2 separate regions of the Homo sapiens genome follow, and region 1 is linked to region 2. Evidence: fine-mapped expression QTL. Tissue or cell type: adrenal gland. Region 2 holds a variant in brackets; the other region holds the start of a gene. All regions are shown on one strand. Distances are from middle to middle. Region 1 holds the start of ROR2 (receptor tyrosine kinase like orphan receptor 2). Region 2 overlaps ROR2 (receptor tyrosine kinase like orphan receptor 2).

The links. PIP is the estimated chance that this variant, and not a neighbour inherited with it, causes the effect.
Region 1: it holds the start of ROR2, and the variant in region 2 is fine-mapped to the expression of ROR2 in adrenal gland (GTEx, PIP above 0.99).

Annotation. Positions count from the first base shown.
Region 1 is chr9:91,948,767-91,951,571 of GRCh38, reverse strand. ROR2 (receptor tyrosine kinase like orphan receptor 2) reads left to right here and starts at 1,344. Exons shown (of 9, transcript NM_004560.4): 1 at 1,344-1,705. The coding sequence starts at 1,609. RefSeq lists silencers at 771-1,065, 1,179-1,358 and enhancers at 1,552-2,051, 2,052-2,553.
Region 2 is chr9:91,894,569-91,897,373 of GRCh38, reverse strand. The region is part of intron 1 of ROR2 (receptor tyrosine kinase like orphan receptor 2); the gene reads left to right. Among named protein-coding and RNA genes, the nearest start is that of ROR2, 54 kb to the left of the region's middle. RefSeq lists an enhancer at 2,268-2,805. The variant A/G (reference allele first, on the strand shown) is at 1,058.

The DNA.
Region 1 (2,805 bases), 54 kb before region 2:
TGCTTCAGCACCTACTCTTAAAACATTACTCTAAAAGCATCCTTAAGGATTCTAAGGGAAGCTAAAGGGAGGAAAACCCCAAAGATAAACCCCTGGCAGTCCTCTAACCACTGGGGAGAGCAGCCCCCCCGTTCAGACCCGCACCAGCCTGGGCAGAGGAACAGCCTGAGCCCGTCTAAGAAGTTTGGTAATAATTTTGCCATCCAGTTGAGGAGGGGCTAGGATCTTCTCCCATTCTCCTACTGGATTTACAGCAGCTCCTGGGAATGAGAACTGCGTGAGATATTTCCCTACACAAATTGGGTAGAGATAGCCGGACGCCTAAATACTTTTAACAGAGGTAACAAGCTAGAGCTGGCTTAGTCATTTTGTCCGCAGACCATAGCAAGAGAGTTTTTATTTCTGGCCACGTCTGAGGCCTCACGTCTGGCACCCAAGGCCAGGGCTCTCCCTAATGCCCTCCAATTAACAGAGCTTGGTACTCCAGCAAAAACACCAAACAAACTGCTGGATAATCAGTTAAAAGATCAATCTCATGGAACAAGCAACTGAGATGCTGGAGAATCCAATTCCTTCCTCTAAGAGGAAAAACAAAGACATTTGCATGTGCTGAGCAAAACCAAGAATAAGCAAGAAAACATGCTATTTGAATTCCGTTCAAAATGTCTCTAATAAGTGAAGCAAATTCTGCACATTCTGGGCCTCTGCAGAGAACAAATAGTGTTCTGCCTTTAATGGGTAAAATTATACAATTTGCTTTTAACAGTAAACCAAAAGCCGCGGTGGCTTCGGATAGCATCGCGCTCCCGAGGGCTCCCTCCACGCAGCTCGACCCCTGGCAGTTTTGAGCATTTCGGGGGACGCGCTTGTCCCCACCGACCTGGGAGGGCGCCGGTGCCAAGGCGGCCTGTTTGTTTTCCTGAACATTTCCTTTTGCAACTTTCGCTTCTCCTCTTCCTGCCTCACCGCTGGTGTCTGGGGCTGGGTGGCTCTCAGATTTGTCCCGGTGCGCAGTGCAGCCTGGAGTTACTGATTTGTGACCTAGATCCCCGGGTGTGTCGCCCCCGAAAGTCGGGGGCACCCGCTCTGGGCGCCTCTCCTGCGTGGGCAGACCCGCCGAACTCCGGCTGACGCCCCCAAGGCGCCACCTTTGTGTTCAAGCGTTCCGAGGCGCAGGCCCGAGGGCGGGCGCAGGAGGCAGGTCCGGGGCCCCAGCTGCAGCCCCAGCTCCTTGGGTCCCGCCCGCCGCCCGCGCGTTCCCCCGGCAGGGGGCGCCGGCGCAAGCCTCGCTCTGCCCATCGGGGCGGGCGAGCGGGGACCCTGCCTCCTGCGCGCTCGCCCGCGGTCCGCCCCCCGCGCTCGTCCTGGCGGCCGGCGGGACGCCCCAGCCCGCGCCAAGGAACCTCCCCAGCCAGCCCTTGCCGTGGCCGGAGCCGAGCGGCGCATCCGGGCCGGAGAAGAGGACGACGACGAGGTCCTCGAAGTGGACCCGTTTGCGAAGCGCCAGGGAGAAGGAGGAGCGGACGCATCGTAGAAAGGGGTGGTGGCGCCCGACCCCGCGCCCCGGCCCGAAGCTCTGAGGGCTTCCCGGCCCCCACTGCCTGCGGCATGGCCCGGGGCTCGGCGCTCCCGCGGCGGCCGCTGCTGTGCATCCCGGCCGTCTGGGCGGCCGCCGCGCTTCTGCTCTCAGTGTCCCGGACTTCAGGTAGGATCTGGCGTTCCGGCTTGTGCGCAGACGGTAGCTCACGGCTCGCTTGGCCAGCCCTTCCGCCGCCACTATGCTCCCGGCCGCTGCGCCGGCGCCCATGCTCCTGAACGAGGGGCGCCAGGCAGGGCCATTCGCATCTCGCCCGACGCCGCTCCCGGCCCGCACCCCGGACCCCCTCGGGCTGGTTACAATAAGCCGCGCTCTGGGGACGCCTAAGTGTTTCCAGAGTCTGGGGGCGGGCGGCGGCGGCTGGGAGCCTCTCGGTGGCGCTTCCCGAGGGTCGCGAGTGGGAGTGCGAGTGTGAATGTGAGTACCCGCCCTGGGCCCGGGACCCGAGTCCGCAGATGTGCCCCGAGGGTCCCAGGACCCGGGCTTCCTCCCCGAGGTCTTCCTCCTTCAAGGGCACACGGCCCCGAGTGTCCCCCGTCTGTCTCGGAGCGTCCCCCCACCCCCAGGGCGGCCTGATGCCTGGCAGAATCCTGGGGTGGACGTGGCCCCGGAGAAGCGGCTCTTGCGGCGGGGGTGGGGGCGCCGGCGGCTCCCGGGTCCTGACTTTCCCAGCCCGCGGGCCGCTTGATGGAAACGGGCTCTTTGGCATCCCTTTTGTTGGTCCCTGAAACCTCCTCTCCCCCACCGCTCTGGGGTGGCCGAAGTGGTGTGTGATCTGGATTGAAATGGTTTGTGACTGGGATCGCGGGTCCCTGAGCGGCTGGGGCGCGGCCGCCTTCTGGCCGCGCCGGGGGGACCCCCGGGACCTGTAGGAGGCTGGCGGCGGGAGGGGCGGGGCCCGGCTCCTAGGTGGGTTTCCTCCCGGGGCCCCACTTCCCCCGAGTCCCTGCGCGGTTTCGGCTGCTTGGATCCGGGGCGCAGAGGAACGGCGGGGAGGTTCGGAAGTGCAGCTTGGGACCTGCCTAGGTTGCCTGGAGGAGGCGGCGTTAGCTCTGGCGGTGCAGACTCCGGGAGCACCTCCCGCCCGCGCGCCTCGGGCCGGATTCTCGGCACCCTGCGGGGGTGGAGGAGGGCGGGCGGGGCCTTCAGGCCCAGGAGCGCCAGAGACCTATGGGGTTCGCCTGAAGCCCCCGGAATGTGTGAGACAC
Region 2 (2,805 bases):
TGGATCACCTTCTTTCCTCTGTACAAGTGGGATAGGCATGTCTTCCCTGCTTCCCCTTTGGGATTATTTTGGCCTAAAACAAGAGACCATGTTTGATTTCACTTTGAAAATTAAATTGTATAAGTTTAATTGCTAATTTTAATAAGTAGCTTGACTATCAAGTTTAATGGGACTCGAAAACTCCCAGCCTTTCCCTTAATTTGGGAGCAGTTATTCTGATCACAGTGCTGTGTGGGGAAGGGTGGGGCTCCACAACCCACCCGTGCTTCCTATGCACTTACGGGGTCTACGTGTGCATCCAGCTGCCAGTGCTGCATTGCACCGAACACGGAAGAGGAGCTTTCACGAGGAGCATGGGCCTTCCCCTTCCTTCCCTTTGCTCCCACTCGCTCTTTAAATGAGCTGTGTTACCGGGCAGAGAGGACTTAGGGAGAGCAGCCGAGGGCGGTGGAGCCCAACGGTGTTTGCTGGGGCCTGGCCAAGCAGAAAGCAGAGGCCTGTCAGGAATGATTAAAGAGCCCAGTGTTGGAAAAGAACAGGCCTTTATGTTGGTGGTAAAATGATTAGAAAGTAATAAGAAAAATGCAGGTTTGGACAGAACATTGTTTTGTTTAATCAGTTCTAAGCCCAAATGAAAAAAAAAGTGCCCTTAGAAGTAAGTTTAAAAGGGATTACAACATACATGTGAACATTTCTCCCATCTAGTTTATGAGTTTAAACTTTAAGGGGAAGGGGGCAGATAAGTCTCTTATTTCTTGGTGTCCAGTGAGGCAATTTCTCTAATGGGAACCAGAAGCAGAGAGAGTAAGAAACATGCTGATGTGAGCAGGCACTTTTGAGGTATAAGAAACTGTCAAGTGATTATTCACACTTCTGTTGGCTGCGCAAAATCCGGATATGGTGAGATCTTTCCAGAAGCCGAAGGAAAAACCTGGAATCTGATCACCTTGTGAGGAGAAATAGGGATCTGAGGAGAATTAATTCTGTTGTTTTTAAAGTGGTGTTTCTGAAGATAAACTGGATGAGGACAGCATTGTGGGGAAGCGGGGGAACCAAG[A/G]TTGCATCTTTGATGTTCAGCCAAGACAGAGTCAGGGCTACAAATATACCCAGTGGAGCGGCACTGGCAAGGAAGGACACGCAGTCTAAGGAGAGATGGTCTAGGGTGATGCTGCTTTTTCATCTTCACAATATTGTATGCACTGCGTGAATTTCTCTTCTAGAGGAAGGAAGACAGATTTTGGAAAACTTTTCCAGTAATGTGTTCTATGGATTTCATCCTTTTTTGCAACATTAACCTTGGGCATTTGTCAAAGATGGAGGCTGTTTGAATATTTTTGAAAGATTGTGACATGGGCTCAAGTTTTCTTGATACACAAGCAGTCTCAGCTGCCACAGGTGTCTGGTGGGAGGTACTGGCACGCGGGTGACATGGAGGGACCTTGGCTTCCCTGTATCACCAAATGCCTGAATTACCAATTAAGAGTAGAGTCATTTTTTTAAATAGATTTATGTATTTCTTTTTTCTTTTTTGAGACAGAGTCTCGCTCAGCCGCCCAGGCTGGAGTGCAGTGGCGCGATCTCGGCTCACTGCAACCGCCGTCTTTCATGTTCAAGCGAATTCTCCCGTGTCAGCCTCCCGAGTAGCTGGGATTACAGGCATCTGCCATCATGCCCGCCTAAATTTTGTATTTTAGTAGAGATGGGGTTTCACCATGTTGGCCAGGCTGGTCTTGAACTCCTGACCTCAAGTGATCCGCCCGCCTCAGCCTCCAAAGTGCTAGGATTACAGGCGTGAGCCACCGTGCCTGGCCTAAATAGATTTATTTTTTAGAACATTTTAGGTTCACAACAAAATAGAGATGAAGGAACAGAGAATTCCCATATTCCCTGTAACCTGCCCAACATCCCCTACCAGAGTGGTGTGTTTTCTACAGTTGATGAACCTATATTGATATATCATTATCACCCAGAGTCCATAGTTTACCTTAGGGTTCACTTTTGGTGCTGTATGTTCTGTGGGTTTGAACAAATGTAAAATGATATGTGTCTACCATGATAGTATCATACAGATATTTTTCAATGCCGTAAAAATTTTCTGTACTCCACTTATTCATCCCTTCCTCCCCAATCCCTGGCAATCACATGACTCCATAGTTTTACCTTTTCTAGATGTCTTATAGTTGGAATCATATAGTATGTAGTTCTTTCAGATTGGATTCTTTCATTTAGCAATTGGCATTTAAGTTTGCTCTATCTCTTTTCATGGTTTGATAGCTCATTTCTTTTTAGTGCTGAATATTTCATCCACTAGATGTACCACAATTTGTGTACCCTCTTACCTGCTGAAGGACATCTGCTTCCAAGTTTTGGCAATTATGAATGAAGCTGCTGTAAATATCCTTGTGCAGGTTTTTGTGTGGACATAAGTTTTCATCTCCTTATACCAAGGAGTGTGATTGCTAGAACATAGGGTAAGAGTGTGTTTAGCTTTGTAAGAAACCATCAAACTGTCTTCCTCAGTGGCCGTACCATTTTGCATTCTCATGAGCAGTGAATGGGACCTCCTGTTGCTCCACATCCTCCCAGCATTTGGTGTCATCAGTGTTTTGGATAGGAGGAACTTTCAGGGGAGAAATAATTAAGCATACTGAAGGAACTGGAAAGGACAGAATTCCCCTCCACTCTCAAGAATAACAATGGAAATGCCCAGGGCATCTGATGTTTAAAACTATAGTTCTGGGCATATTTTGGGCACTCACAAGTTCTCTGTGAGAATGTTCAGTTTAAACTCATTGTGTTTTTGCA